Regions from separate parts of the Homo sapiens genome. Here region 1 is reported to be linked to region 2. Evidence: microRNA targets listed by miRTarBase, many of them from high-throughput screens and not tested one by one. Region 2 holds a microRNA gene; the other region holds the end of a gene's coding sequence.
Evidence for each region. The annotated mature microRNA hsa-miR-2467-3p reads AGCAGAGGCAGAGAGGCUCAGG and lies in region 2 at 1,964-1,985, shown strand. An mRNA with a match to its seed (bases 2 to 7 or 8) in the 3' UTR can be bound and repressed. Matches are read on the target gene's strand: a 7mer-m8 pairs with bases 2 to 8, a 7mer-A1 pairs with bases 2 to 7 and ends in A, and an 8mer does both.

Region 1: the mRNA of IGDCC4 is a reported target of hsa-miR-2467-3p. Seed matches in the 3' UTR shown: 7mer-A1 at 3,053-3,059, 7mer-m8 at 2,868-2,874 and 7mer-A1 at 2,806-2,812.

The regions. Positions count from the first base shown.
Region 1 is chr15:65,380,380-65,384,443 of GRCh38, forward strand. IGDCC4 (immunoglobulin superfamily DCC subclass member 4) reads right to left here. Exons shown (of 20, transcript NM_020962.3): 20 at 1,105-4,040. The coding sequence ends at 3,630. Among named protein-coding and RNA genes, the nearest start is that of IGDCC3, 4.4 kb to the left of the region's middle.
Region 2 is chr2:239,349,653-239,353,716 of GRCh38, reverse strand. MIR2467 (microRNA 2467) reads left to right here and starts at 1,913; the gene lies at 1,913-1,993. HDAC4 (histone deacetylase 4) reads left to right here. Exons shown (of 27, transcript NM_001378414.1): 2 at 799-1,039. The coding sequence starts at 1,018. RefSeq lists a silencer at 1,057-1,250.

The DNA of each region.
Region 1 (4,064 bases), not on the chromosome of region 2:
GACTGTGTGCACATTTGCATTAACGGACAGACACAAGGGTGTTTGTGAAGGCAAAGTATGCATGTGCGGGTCTCTGAGCTTGTACACACAGTGCACGTGTGTGTGATTGTGTGGCCATGAGTAATTTTGGTGACCAGAGTTATACAGGAGAATAGTTGTGGAGCCCAAATCTCTGGAGTTGTTCCCTCTTTCCTGCACCCAAAAAAGTTCAGAGAAATGTGTGCCCAGATGGAAAGAGATCCCCAGAGAGTCTAAGGAAGTGCCATCAAAGGACACATCTTTCCTAAGTTTACGTCTTTTTCCTAAGTGCCTGTTGAGGGAGGAAGATGGTTTAGTTCTTTCCCATGACCACCTGCTTTTTACCCTCAAAAACCACCATTTTGAGCCGGGCGCAGGGGCTTATGCCTGTAATTCCAGCACTTTGGGAGGCCAAGGCGGGCAGATTACCTGAGGTCAGGAGTTTGAGACCAGCCTGGCTAACATGGTGAAACCCCGTCTCTACTAAAAATACAAAAATTAGCCGGGTGTGGTGGTGCATGCCTGTAATCCCAGCTATTCGGGGGGCTGAGGCAGGAGAATCACTTGAACCCGGGAGGCAGAGGTTGCAGTGAGCCGAGATCATGCCACTGCACTCCAGCCTAGGCGACAAAGTGAGATTAGTCTGAAAAAACAAACAAACAAACAAACAAACAAACAAAACACTATTTTGGGCCAAGAGGCAGTGGCTCATGCTTGTAATCGAGCACTTTTCGAAGCTGGGGCAGGAGGATGGTTTTAGCCCAGGAGTTCGAGACCAGTCTGGGTAAGATAACGAGACCACATCTCTATAACAAAAATTTTTTTTAATATTAGCCAGGCATGGTGGCATGTGCCTGTAGTCCCAGCTACTAGGGAGGCTACAGTGACAAGACTGCTTGAACCCAGGAAGTTGAGTCTGCAGTGAGCTGTGATTGTGCCACTGCACTCCAGCCTGGGCGACAGAGAGATCCCATCTCAAAAACAACAACAACATCATTTCCCATCACAGTAAGAAATAAAATCCCTAGGGCACAAAGGCTGAGGAAATTCTAGTCATGGTCAATGGTTCCAAAAGAGAATTCCACATTTCTGGAAAATAGTTTATTAATTCATTATAAGGACAGATACATGAATCAATGCCTTAGCTTAACACTAAAGAGTATCATATTTGTAAGGAGAAAAAAAAAACGCTGGAAGGATAATTAAATAGTACAGCATAAACTAAATACAGACAAATAAATGAGCAAGTACTGATTACACTTGTCATGCATCAAGAAAAGGAAGATTTTTAATTGAGACTCAGAAAACTTAAGGCATCAATGGTAGGTGACAAAGGGATTAATACCCTGTAAAAGGCCAATAGATTCTTTTCTAATAAAAATACTGCTACAAAGACACAAACCTAACACTTCCAAATTACCCAGAGCCCAAATCATATATAGTGCTAGTGAGAAATGGCCACTTTCTTATCAACTGTGAGTTATAGGCAGATACCAGATTTATTACTTATTTGCTTTTGAGAAACAATTTTCCACCCAACCTAATGGGTTATAAATTGTCTCATTTGCAGCTATTTAATTTAAACCAGAACCTCAGTGCCTGTTAAACAAGAACATGAAAAATGACTATGTGGTATAATGCTAAGAGCCTACTGTTAAAACAGCCATTTAATTCAGGGCAGTTTTTTTTTCTTCTTTAAAAAAAAAAAATCAAACCAGCAAAATAAAATGAGGCTTTTGACCTTCAGAGCAATGATGAAACATACACAGTGGTGTTAGCCACAGCAGCGCTGAATGCTACAGAAATACTACAAGTGACAATTCTGTCTTTAACGAGATACAAAACCAACATTAATAATCTTTAGTGTTATCATAGGCTGGCTGAAGGAGGGGGAGGAGGTGGAAACGTAGGTGCAGACATCAACAGTGAGTGACACCCGAGTATAATAAACACAGATGCTTTCAGGGTTTGAGGAAGCCGCAACTGTGCTGAGAGACATTCCACCATTTAAAAAAAAAAAAAAAAAAAAGGAAAAATGGACTGGTTATTTCGAATTTGGCCCAGAAGGCAGAGTTAACTCTTGATGTGCCAATCAGACATCATTAGGGAGTAAAGACCCTAACATTCTATGCTCCTATGAGAGGGCTGAGGTGAAAAACCAAATAAATGACATTGTTTTCACTACACAGAAAATAGAAGTCAAGCTTGTCCCTGTGCGGCAGGTGAACAGAAAATGACTTGAGGATTCAATTTAAAGAAAAAACAAACTGAAATGAGCTACCCCTTTTCCTGTGCAAAGACCTCCTTGCCAGCACCCCAGAGGGTGAGATTCCTGTCATCCCCAATCCAGATCAAGTCAAGCCTCACAGGGTGGGAAGGGCCTCCCTGAACTCTCACTCCCCTTCTCTTCCTTTAGCTTCTTCTGGAAGAGAGGCCCAAATCATCTCCATCCAGTAAACTTGCCCCCCTGCATAGAAGGGAGGGCATCTTTTTATTCTGAGCCTCTGGATCACAGCCCCCTTCCCTGTCTCAAACATTCCCCTCTATGACTTGGATCCATCCATGGAGAACCCTTGGATCCCAATCCCAAAGGCAAGATGCAGGGAAGCCAGAAGATCTTCTCCACACCCGCACTGGGCGTGGGTGGGCTGCCTGGGGCAGGGCAAGCAGAAGCACTGAGTGAAGAGGAGGCAGGAGGATGGCAGGCGAGTGCGCGGCAGCCGCGGATACAGGAAGGGCACGGGGGCCTTGAAGCAGACATGAGGTAGTCACGTTGTTAGAGAAGGATGCAGAGTTTGAACCCAGGCAGGAGAACAAGATGACATAGTCTGGGAGAGGTGTGAGAGATAGCAGAGGAAGGAAAACAGGAGAGAGGAAAGGAAAGAGTATCTGGGAGCAGGAGAAGGGCACTGGTGCTGGGAGAGCGAGGTGACTGGGAGACAGAACACTAGAGCAGCCAGGGGCAAGGAAGGAGGGGAAGAGTGAGAGAAAGCGGATTTTCAAAACCAGGCACTTCCCAGATTACAAAATTAAATGCAGAGTTGCTCGGAGGGGAGCCAGGGCCACCCTCTCTATTTGGGCAATAAGGAGCTGGGAGGTGATGCAGCTGAAATGCCAGGCATTCAGAGCCTGCTTGCACCCAACCCAGCCAGACAGGAGAATGGGCTGGGACTGTCTTTGTCAGACAGGCATTGGAGACACTCTCAGAGTGTGTAATAAAAGGCTGGGCGATGGAGGTGGGGGCCCACAGGGCTGGGGACTGACCACTGTGGGGCACCGTTCTGACCTGGAGGACCAATCAGGCTGTAGTGACCACTGCCTGGGCCACGGTTTCCCAGCTCAACAACCAGTACGCATACATGCACTTCACACATGTGCACATCACATGTAGCTATGTCTCGTATGTCTTTCACATGTCACATGTGTATCACAAAGAGTATGGGGGGAGTGAATAATCCATGTTTTCCTCTCCCCTCAGCCAAAGCAACTTAGGAAGCTCCAAAGGGCTTGATGATGTATCTACAGGCACACATGTGGACATACACGGCCACAGGTATCGCATCCTATGTGATCCATACCTGCCTGCCCCAAACCACATCCTCTGGGAAGAGCTAGGCAGAGGAGGAGACCGGGGATCTGGGCAGGCCTGGGCTGGCTCCTAGAGGGCAGGGGGATTTGAGCTGGCAGCTATCTCCAGGGGTCTCCTCTAGCACCTCGCCTGGCTGGAGGTCCGGGTAGGAGCAGGAAGCACTGGCTGCCTCTGGCAAGCAGGTAAGTCTGTCTGGCCCGGGGGCTGCCAGCTCACACCCTCCCAACTCCCTGTCCAGCCAGGCTGCCCCCTGCCCTGGATCCCCAACACCCGAGATGAGATCAGGAGCCTCTGGAGGCAGGGGGTCCTCAGGCTCCAGGTCTTGGAGATGGAGGTCAGGGTTCCCGTTAGATGCACTAAAGTCAGAGTGGACAATGACTTCAGCCTCCACCTGGTTCCTGCAGGCTGGGGGTGACTTCTTCCTCCCATTGCCCTGATCAGAGCAGAGAACACAAAG
Region 2 (4,064 bases):
TTTCAAAAGCCTAATGTTGGAGAAACTTCTGGAAGGGGTAAGGAAGGTGTCTCTAGATCAGATATTTTGAACCAGGGGATGATATTATCCCCCAGAGGACCTTTGGCACTCCCTGGAGACATTCTTGGTTGTCATGACCTGGAAGATGCTGCTGGCATCTGGTGTGTGGAGGCCCAGGATCCTGCTAAATATCTTATAATGTGTATGGCAGCCCTACACCCCAACACCTAAATACGCAAACCAAAATCCCAGTGGTACTGAGGCTGAGAAACCCTGCTCTCTGGAGACATTTTTACATGTCTGTGATTTACTAACAAAAATCCCACTGCTCGTATTTGTAGAAATGATTCCGTCGAACTGTTCTATCAGTCCTTGGTCAGAACAAGGATAAAGAAGGAAGTTGGTGGGGCGTGGTGGCTCAAGCCTGTAATCCCAGCACTTTGGGAGGCTGAGGTGGGTGGATCACTTGAGGTCAGGAGTTTGAGACCAGCCTGGGCCAACATGGCAAAACCCCGTTTCTACTAAAAATACAAAAATTAGCTGTGCCTGGTGGCATGCACCTGTGTTCCCAGCTACTCGGGAGGCTGAGGCAGGAGAATTGCTCGAACCCAGGGTTGCAGGGGTGGTGGAGGTTGCAGTGAGCCCAGATCGTGCCACCACACTCCAGCCTGGGCGATAGAGCAAGATTCTGTCTCCAAAAAAAAAGAGGAAGTCATCATTTCCCTAGTTGGATGTTGTTTTCCAGATCGGAACTTCCATGTTGTAACTCCAGTCTCTTTTCTCCTTCTGACCTTGCAGGTTCATCTGCAGAAGCCAGCGGACGCCTCTGTTCAACTTGTGGGTTACCTGGCTCATGAGACCTTGCCGGCGAGGCTCGGCGCTTGAACGTCTGTGACCCAGCCCTCACCGTCCCGGTACTTGTATGTGTTGGTGGGAGTTTGGAGCTCGTTGGAGCTATCGTTTCCGTGGAAATTTTGAGCCATTTCGAATCACTTAAAGGAGTGGACATTGCTAGCAATGAGCTCCCAAAGCCATCCAGGTAAGGCCGGGTCATTTCTTCTCTGGGCACACAGCGGGGCTTTCTTTGCCCAAAGTAGAAGTTCTTGTGACTGCAGCTTGCTTTCTGGATTTGAGACTTTTGTTTTTCTTGATAGTGGTCACTGTTGGTTTTTGACAGCACAAAGTGCAAAATGGATGGTTTATTCTTCCTCTTGGTGAAAGAAGAATGATAAAACCTGGGAGGATGTGGAGTCAAGTCTGCGACCCCGGTTTGCAGGCTGACTTGAGAGGCACACAGGTTTCCTCGATGCTTTTTGACAAGGGTGATGTTGAAAGGTCAGGTTGTGATGTGGAGAGCTGGTTTCTTGCCCAGTGTCTTTGTTGTTTCATGAGGGGTTGTGTGAGGGGTGGGAGTGCTCCTCCAACTGGGCGTCTGGGCTGTCTGGGAAGAAGCTCATGTTCCCACTGAGGTCGTGGCCACAGTTGCTCCTGGTGTTTGAGGGCCTCTGTGAGGGGCTGCACTAAGCATTTTACAAGCATTTAGTACAGCCCCAGATCATCTCAGGCCTGGAGGGAAGAAGTAATTTGCCTGAGGTCACAGAGCTGGTAGGTGGGGGACCCACATGATTGGGAAGCAAGCTTGTCCTGCTCTGAGCTTCAGAAGCATGTCATGGGCCCATCCATTTACGACTTCACACTTTCTGTCCTTGGAAAGTCACCGAGAGCGTGCACCATAATGAAACCTCGAGGCCTGCCGCCGACCTGCCTGAGTGTGGGGCTCCTGCAGAGCCAGTCCTGTGCTGCCCAGCTTCCTGCCACTTCCAGCGCACCGTGGCCTTCAAGGGCACTTAGCCATCGACTTCTGTCTTGCGTCCACATGAGAGAGAAGACGGTGGCCACTGGACAGACGCTTGGACAGGCACCTGAGGCTCTGTTAGCCTTGGCTCTGGGTCCTGCTCCTTAGAGCAGAGGCAGAGAGGCTCAGGGTCTGTCTGGGTCACTCTCTTTGAGATTGCCGGAACGCTTACACACATCTTTCCCTGGGTGGAATCGTCTTTGTCTGAAAATTCCAGAGGGCAAGATTCCAGGTTTTTTTAGATATGAAAGTTTTATTGAGTTAAATTGTTTATGTATTGACTGATGTAAAGAAATGGTTTATGATCATTCCAAGACAAAATTAAGCGCTATGGCTCAAAGTGTCTAAATAGACATTGAATGGAGCTGGCTCTCTCCCTCCTACACTGGGCTGCTGTTGGGTGAGAGTGTATCTTTTTTCTGTGTCTAAACATAGTGTGATGTGTGTGAGCATTTTCATAGAGTATAATTCTATAGGCAGGGCCCTGTGTTTTACATTCTGTCCATTTTAATGTGTTATAAGCATCTTTTGGTATCAGTATGTGTGCAAATATAACTTGCTCTTTTGATACCTTGCGAATGGATATTTATGTGGTTGTAGCAGTGTTTATACCAATTCCAAATTGGCATCAAACAATTATTATACATATATTTTGTAAACTTCTAAGTATCACTACTAGACAAATTCCAGGAAGTGGAAGCTGGGTCAGTGAGCCCGTGCACTTAAAACATCATTAGGTTGACTGTCAAATTGCTCCAGAAGCCTCGTTCCAACTGATCTTCCTAATTCCAGTGTAAGAGGATGCATATTTTTCATTTGTGCTGTACCAGCACTGGGTAGGTTCAGTCTCTCTCATTTTTGTCAGTGTGCTATGGGAAAATTATTGTTTGAGTACACTTGATTATTTTAATGGGGGTGCATATTTTTGTATGACTTGGTGTACACATAATCATAATTTGTACATGCTCTGCAGGCATTTGAAGAGAAAGTATGCTCTTAGGATTTTGTTTCAGTCTAAAGACGTCTGTATGTATGTATCAATATTGTATTTAAAGTTCTCGGCCGGGCGCAGAGGCCCACAGCTGTAATCCCAGCACTTCGGAAGGTCAGGGTGGGCAGATCACAAGGTCAAGAGATTGAGACCATTCTGACCAACATAGTGAAACCCCATCTCTACTAAAAATACAAAAATTAGCTGGGCGTGGTGGCGTGTGCCTGTAGTCCCAGCTACCCAGGAGGCTCAGGCAGGATAATCGCTTGAACCTGGGAGGCAGAGGTTGCAGTGAGCTGAGATTGCGCCACTGTACTTCAGCCTGGCGACAGAGCAAGACTCCGTCTCAAAAAAAAAAGTTCTCTCATTTATATATATTTTATTTATATATAGGAGGATATGTATCCTTTCTTTATATGTTGTTTTAATTATATATTAACTCAGTTGAGTTATTTAAATCAGTATAGCTTTACTTATTTTTTTCTGTCTGCTCGATTTCTTGGAAAAGTGTATTTTTCTACTGTGATTATAGTCTTATAATATTCTTTTTACATTAATAACCATTTTTTGCTTTATATAGTTCAGTGTTTTTTTTTAAAGCTTAAAAATTAATGACTGTTCTTTTGGTAGATCAGGTCTCTTATCAAAATATAATATATTTCTCTTTGTTTAATGTTTCTTTGACCGAGAGCTTATAGTGTTTCATGAGGTATTTCTACCCTTGGTTTCTTTTGGCTAACAAATATTTCTCCATCCGCTTGTCTCTAACCTTTTCAGGCCGGGTTCTTTGAGGCTCAGCTCTGGAAACCGCGGGGTGCTGGGTTTGTTTGGCCTTTTCTGTGGGAATTTCAGCCGCTGCGGTTCAGTTTGATCACCGGCCTGCCCGGGCCTGTCCTGCCCATGTGAGTTGGGTTGTGTGCGCCTTATTGCCACCCACGACCTCTCCATTCTCTCTCTCAGTGGGTTGGAGGCTGAAGACAGGCCGCACTGGTGAGGGCAGGGCTGCCCCTTGGCCCAGCCCATTCTCTGCTCTCCATCTGTGCAGGGGGTACAGCTGAGGTGGTTTGCCTGGGGCCTGAAGTCTGCTGGCTGCCTCCTCTGCCCTGTCCGCTGTCATCTTTCCCTGCCGTGTCTGCCCTTCCGCCCGGAGGTCCCTTGGGAGGCAGGACCCCTTGTGCCCAACACGTGCATACCACCACCTGCACACACTGGCTGGTG